Homo sapiens: one gene and its partner. The protein of the gene in region 1 interacts with the protein of each later gene in a biochemical or structural test. Each region holds a gene or a part of one and is shown in the gene's direction. Other genes may lie near its edges.

Region 1 (3,500 bases):
CACACAGACCCCCAGCCTCGCTTTGTAATGCCTGTGTGTTACTTTCCAGCCTATTTTCCTAAATGAGGTTCTAGTAAAATTACCCACCGACCCTTCTGGAGACGAGCCCATCTTCCACATCTCCCACATTGACCGCGTCTATACTCTCCGAGCAGAAAGCATAAATGAAAGGTGAGACCTGCCGCCTCCCCAGCATGGGCCCCAGGGCTCCACGGCTCTAGGACACACAAGGGGCGGGTGATTAATCAGGTGCCAATGTTTCCCAAGTGGCAATGCCATCACCCCTAGCTGGGAGTGGGGATGGGGCTATTACTTTTTTCTACAGCCTCTCAAAAATCTGTCACATGGCATGCCCTTTCCAAAATAACATGGATTCAAACTAATTTTGCTTGAGTTTTTTTTTTTTTTTTTTTTTTTAAGGCAGAGTCTCACTCTGTCACCCAGGCTGGAGTGCAGTAGTGCAGTCACAGCTCACTGCAGCCTTAACCTCCTGGGCTCAGGTAATCCTCCCACCCTAGCCTCCCAGGTATGTGGGACTACAGGCATGTGCTACCAAGCCTGGCTAATTCTTTATATTTTTTTGTAGAGATGGGTTCTTGCCATGTTGCCCAGGCTGGTCTTAAACTCCTGGGCTCAAGGGATCCACCCGCCTTGGCCTCCCAGAATGCCAGAATTCTGGGATTACAGGGGTGAGCCACTGCACCTGGCATTGTTGTTGTTGTTGTTGTTGTTTTATTAAGAAATGTTTCGCATTCTTTGAGGTAAACAGAGCATCTCAGGTTTCCCCTGGCTTCCCAGGTGGCAGAAACCAATAGGAAAGTAATTTCGGGGTTAATAGGACCACGCAAACCCAAACCTCTCCTCACCTTGGCTGACTTAAATGGGCATTCTGGAACCTAGGGCTGTGGGTATTTTGCTTCAATCTGTCTTCAAGACACTGCCCTGGAGCCAAATGAAATAGATCATTTTCTGAAGGGTGAACTTGACACAAGGCCAGCATCATTCCAAAGAGCATTTGCACCAAGCAAGAAAATTGGCTAAAGCTTTTGTGCATATGGTTCTCAGAAAAAATGAAGGAGAAAACCGCGGCCACAAATGCCTTCCCCCAAGGCGTTTTGGTCTTTCGTGTGAAGTGGTTCCCAATCTGGGAAGTGGTTTTTGTTCTTTCTTTGCGTGATTTCATAAGCGAGATCCTTCTGGCTTTGTTGGATTAGGCAAATATGTGCTGCTCTTCGGTAAGGAAGGAAGAGGAGTCGTGTCCCGATGTTGCCTCCAAGACAGCATCTATCACAGATTTTCTTCCCCGGGGACATCATCGCAGGTCTTGAGGACATCCATGGAAATGGCCCTCATGCCTTTCTTATCGATGGCAGGAATAAGTATTAGCGTCACGTGACATAAAATCAGATTTTCTTTCCCGAGCCTTTGTTGTTAAAATCAAATGAACAAAGAAACAGAGTCCTGGCAACAGTGTTTGAACAGACCTGAAGCCTTTTTCCTGAGTTTCTGTTTGGCAACTTTCTGTCTTTTTCTGTCCAAGGACTGCCTGGGTGCAGAAAATCAAAGCTGCTTCTGAACTCTACATAGAGACTGAGAAAAAGAAGCGCGAGAAAGCGTACCTGGGTAATGCATGGCCCCGCGGGGTGTCCTGCACAGCTGGGCAGGAGGGAGGGCCATTTGGCTGGGCTGAAAATCCTCAGAATAGAAGAATCCCCTGGACCTAGAGGAGGGGCATGGAATGAGATGGAAGTGAGCTTGGGGTGGGATGCAGATGGGGATGGAGGGCAAATTCCAGGAGCAAGGAAGCAAGTGTTTAAGGAGAGGGAAGAATTACTTTTGAGTCGGGAGAGGTACATGAAATGCATTGTGAGGCTCACAGAGATGGGAAAGGTGTGGCACGTTCAAATGAAGCATTTTGTGTTTTTCCTGCCGTCATAGTCCGTTCCCAAAGGGCAACAGGCATTGGAAGGTTGATGGTGAACGTGGTTGAAGGCATCGAGTTGAAACCCTGTCGGTCACATGGTAAGGCTGTGAGGCGCCCCCGGCTCCTGCTTTGGGGTTGGGAGTAGGGTCCGGGTTCCCCACACCCCCACCTGGCTCTAGATCAAATGTGCTATTTCCATACTCCCTGATCTCCTTCCAGAATTGGTTTAACTAGCACTTGTTAAAAACCTGGAGGTTTTGTGTTTTTTTTTCCATCCTTTCTACCATTCTGCTTCTCCGAGGGATCTGAGTGGCTGCATTCACAGTGGATGTGACACAAGATCAGGCCAAAGTAACGAGACAGGAAGGGCCTAGTTTCAAAGCCCACTCAATTAAGTATTTGTTTTTAGTTTAAGGATGAAGCTGACTTCTGGGAGTTTCCACCCGGATTCTCCACCGAATGACACTTATTAAGCATAGCAGTTATTAAGAGTGGGGAGCGGCCGGGCATGGTGGCTCACACCTGTAATCCCAGTGCTTTGGGAGGCCAAAGCAGGTGGATCACCTGAGGTCAGGAGTTTGAGACCAGCCTGGCCAACATGGTGAAAGCCCGTCTTTACTAAAAATATAAAAAATTAGCCAGGCATGGGGGCAGCCACCTGTAATACCAGCTATTCATTCAGGAGACTGAGGCAGGAGAATCACTTGAGCTCAGGAGGTGGAGGTTGCAATGAGCTGAGATCATACCACTGCACTGCAGCCTGGGCGACAGAGCAAGAATCCATCTAAAAAAAAAAAAAAAAAAGAGTGGAGATCAAAATGAGGTGTGAGTTCCACCTGGCGAAGGCTTTTGTTCCCTCCAGGAAAGAGCAACCCGTACTGTGAGGTGACCATGGGTTCCCAGTGCCACATCACCAAGACGATCCAGGACACTCTGAACCCCAAGTGGAATTCCAACTGCCAGTTCTTCATCCGAGACCTGGAGCAGGAAGTCCTCTGCATCACTGTGTTCGAGAGGGACCAGTTCTCACCAGATGGTGAGTGGAACGCGGCCCTGTGGTTATTCCTCCTTCCCTGGCACTCGTTTGCGTGGGTTAATGTTTTCTTACCTGGGGACTTGGTGCCAGGATTCCTTCGGTTTCCCTCCTGAGAGATGAGGCTGGCTGGCACAAGACGAGGCTCTGTCTCCCCTGGAGGAGTCTTCTGGAGGCGTCTCATTGCATGTGGACAGAGCATGCTTGGTCTAGAATTGTGCCAGCTGCCCTGGGCAAACACGTCCATCTTCTGCTTTCCAAAGCAGGTGACTGTGGAGAGGGGTGTGTTTAAGAGCCTCAGCATAGTTCTTCAGTCCTTGGCAAAAAGCTGTGCTGGCAATGGATGAAACTGGCCAATGGAACAAGGATGTTAGCCCACAACAGGAGCCGCAGAATGGGCCAGGTCCCTTTGGGTGGCATTTTTGTACCACTTATTAAGTAGGCAAAGGGATGCAGTCATGTTGAATGAATCATTTCTTCAGCCAGCCTTCTGTTTCTGCTTGGGCCTGGAAAAGAATAGTCTCAGCCCAATGATTCCAAGAA
Region 2 (3,463 bases), on another chromosome or scaffold:
TTTTTTCTCTCCCAAATGAGTTTTATTTTGTTAACTAATTTTTTAATTGAGAATGGGGTCTTGCTCTGTCGCCTAGGGTAGTGTGGTGGTACAATCACAGCTCACTGCAGCCTGCCTCCTAGGCTAAAGCGTTCCTCCCACATCAGCCTATTTTGTTAACTAAAAATAAATTAAGTTCCTGAATCCTCATCTCATGAAAGAGTCCGTAGGTGAAAATCTGTTCTGCAGAATAGTTCTTATGGAGTGGACACACGAAATAGAGTCATGTGAGTGAAAGAAAGTTGTGATTCTTTTTTTTCCCCCTTAACTTTACATGATATAAATATAGTGAAAGCGAAATTGTTTTCAGTGTTTTGATGTGTCACATGTAAAGTCATACCTTGGCCAACCGTGGTAGCTCACACCTGTAATCTCAACACTTTGAGAGGCGGAGGCAGGAGGATTGCTTGAGCTCAGGAGTTTGAGACCAGAGCAAGACCTCGACTCTACTAAAAAAATTTAAAAATTGACCAGGCATGGTGGCATGTGCCTATTGTCCCAGTTACTCGGGAGGCTGAGGCAGAAGGATTGCTTGAGTGTAGGAGTTGAAGGCTGCAGTGAGCTGTGATTGCACCATTGCATTCCAGCCTGGGCAACAGAGTGAGACCCTTTCTCAAAAAGAAAGGAAAAAAAGAAAGTCATACCTCATTAAAATCTCAGTGAACTTTAGGGTGAGTTTTTAAGCTTGGCTCTCTGTTAAATCACTTTTGATGGATTTAATTGAAACAGTGGTTCACAAGATGCTTTAAATGCTGCAGTCTGGGTTTAGGCTATATTTACCTGTCATTTTAATTCAGATGTTGGTGAGGATGGTAATAGATTCGTTTCAAAGATCTTTGGAAAGGTTATTTCAGTCTCTCCAGGTTAGACTTAGGGTGTCTGAATCCAGATGAGATTCTATGATTCAGTTCAGAGGACTCACACAAGGTCCAGATCTTTAACAGAGAAGAGCACTCTTTCATATTTCATTGCATCAAAAAATGCCATTGATTACAGGATGCATCCCAGTTTCAGGCATGTTAAACTATGAAAAAATGCGTTATAGAATTTATGAAATATTGGCAAGGTCTTATATGTTACACCTTTGTCATGTTTATATACCAGGGGTTTTCCAAATGAATTTCATATTCTGTTACTTCTTGCCCAACATGAGTTTTGTAATGTAACTTCACGTGGTTTCTTGGATTTTCTTGGTGTGTCAGTTACTCCAAGTGTAAAAAGTTTAATTTTTATTAGAGTTACTTACCTTGTAAAGCTGATATCTTTCTTGTTTTTCAGGCTGACACCAACAGAGATCGTATTGATATTGCCAATGCCAGAGCAAAGAAACTCATTGACAGCTAAAGCTACTGCTGTTCTTCTTTATCATTTATTCACTTCCGTAGCTCCTCCTTGAAAGTTATTACCTTTTCAGAGTTTAAGTTTTCGGTTCCACGCTCTTCTAATTGGGAGATAATATGGAAGAAGGGCCAGAGCAGTTACAGCCCTCCTTCTTTTTTGTTTTCTGTTGAGGGCCGACTGCTGCTCTGCCTTCCTTCTAGTATTTTCTTTCTCAATTCATACGCTTAGATTGGTTTTCATATGTCATGTTTAGTGTTTTCATCCTCCTCATATACTTCAGCAGGTTCTTTTGCTTTCAAGATTTGGAAGCATTGCCAAAGACAGCCATGAAGAAGGAAGCTGTAGAGGTGTTTTTTGTTGTTGTTTATTTTTGCTTTTGTGGTTGAGGGAAGGACAAGAGATAAGAGGTTGTTACCTCAGTAAAAACCTTCAGGCCACAAAGCAAAAAGTTGCATAGCCACAACGAAGATCTAGTTGGATATAGTTTTTGATTTAAGTTGCAGTTATAGCCAATTTAGGCTAATGCTTGGTTTTGGAGCTTTTATACACAACGTTTTTGTTAGGCATCACAGTTTTGCAACCTCTGCTCCAAAGAGAAAAATAGAATGAGTTTTCTTTCTTTTTTTTTTTTTTGGAGTCAGAGTCTCGCTCTCTTGTCCAGGCTGGAGTGCAATAGCGCGATCTGGGCTCACTGCAACCTCCGCCTCCCTGGTTCAAGCAATTCTCCTGCCTTGCCTCCTGAGTAGCTGGGATTACAGGCGTGTGTCACCACGCTCGGCTAATTTTTGTATTTTTAGTAGAGACAGGGTTTCACCATGTCAAGCTGGTCTTGGACTCCTGACGTCGTGATCCACCCGCCTTGGCCTCCCAAAGTACTGGGATTACAGGCGTGAGCCACTGTGCCTGGCTGAGTTTTCTTAAAGTGAGCTTAATTTCTGAACTCTTAGTGATTCATATATGTACATAAATCTGTGATCCCATTTCTTATTGCACCATTCAGGAACACTTTATATAAATGAGTGGCTTTTTATTTCATATTATTAGTAGTATCATGGTTCCATTACAGGCCTATTAACATCATACATTGTCATTAGTCTTTGAAGAAAAAATATGTAAATATATATGTGTAACATGAGAATTTCTCTCTAAAGCAGGGCTTAAAATTTTTTGGAAAAGTTTGACAAAGCATACCACATGAATTCAGATTTACCTCAATGCTAAGAATTATGTTTAGTTAGGAAAAAGGAAAGTCATTTTGACCTCAGGTAGAAAAATAGATTGCTTTGAGTTTTATGTAGCTTTAGACTTTAAAAAGTTAGAATTTATTCTGTAACTAAAAATTATTTGAAAAAATTATGCCTCTGGTTTAATTATTGGTGATTACACACTCTTTCTCTTACCCTTGTGTATTGAACTATGTCCATAATCAAGTTGATGTGGATCCTGAAAAGTGTTATGAACATCTGATTGGTATTTGTCACATTTATTTTAAAATTAGCATCTGAACACTTCAAAGCTGTCAGTGTGTATTGGTTTCACCAATAACCACTGCTTGATCCTTACAATTAAATTTTTTAACTAACTAATGGTATTGTTCTTTCAAATAGGTAACATGTTTCTATGACTGTTATTTGGGGGAAAATAGTTTCATCAGCTCTCATTTAACAAATTAATAAAGCAAAGATCCATACATCAAGAAACACTACAGCAGGAAGCTGCCTTTAGCATCTTTCCAGTATTTATTGAAAATATTGATGGGACTTAAACTTACCTTGCTAAAAATTTATTGTGAGGTTCATTTTAATCATTACTAGTCTTACTCACTTGAGCTTAAATACACTAGTGACTGGAAGGGTAATGGTTCTGTGTGAGAACTACAACTCACTGGAGAAGATACAGTTAATGTGGGAGCTTTCAAAGGCTAAAGAGGAAAATATTTAAATAAAGTGAGATGCAACTACACCCTCTGTAATAGAAATGCTCCATGTCAAAATGAGTGGTTTGGCAGGGATGGTAAATATGTAAAGTAAGGTGTAAAACGGAGGATTGTGCTTTACCTAAATGCCTTTCCTAAAACCATTTA

The links. The genes of interacting proteins can lie anywhere in the genome.
Region 2: the proteins of ITSN1 (region 1) and SNAP23 form a complex in vitro, tested with the Homo sapiens proteins (one study listed by BioGRID).

The regions. Positions count from the first base shown.
Region 1 is NC_000021.9:33,883,501-33,887,000, forward strand, and holds part of ITSN1 (intersectin-1), read left to right. Parts: intron 1-49; coding exon 50-171; intron 172-1,540; coding exon 1,541-1,623; intron 1,624-1,938; coding exon 1,939-2,022; intron 2,023-2,786; coding exon 2,787-2,960; intron 2,961-3,500. UniProt on the Homo sapiens protein: Adapter protein that provides a link between the endocytic membrane traffic and the actin assembly machinery. Acts as a guanine nucleotide exchange factor (GEF) for CDC42, and thereby stimulates actin nucleation mediated by WASL and the ARP2/3 complex.
Region 2 is NC_000015.10:42,530,096-42,533,558, forward strand, and holds the end of SNAP23 (synaptosomal-associated protein 23), read left to right. Parts: intron 1-1,317; coding exon 1,318-1,383; 3' UTR 1,384-2,963; downstream 2,964-3,463. UniProt on the Homo sapiens protein: Essential component of the high affinity receptor for the general membrane fusion machinery and an important regulator of transport vesicle docking and fusion.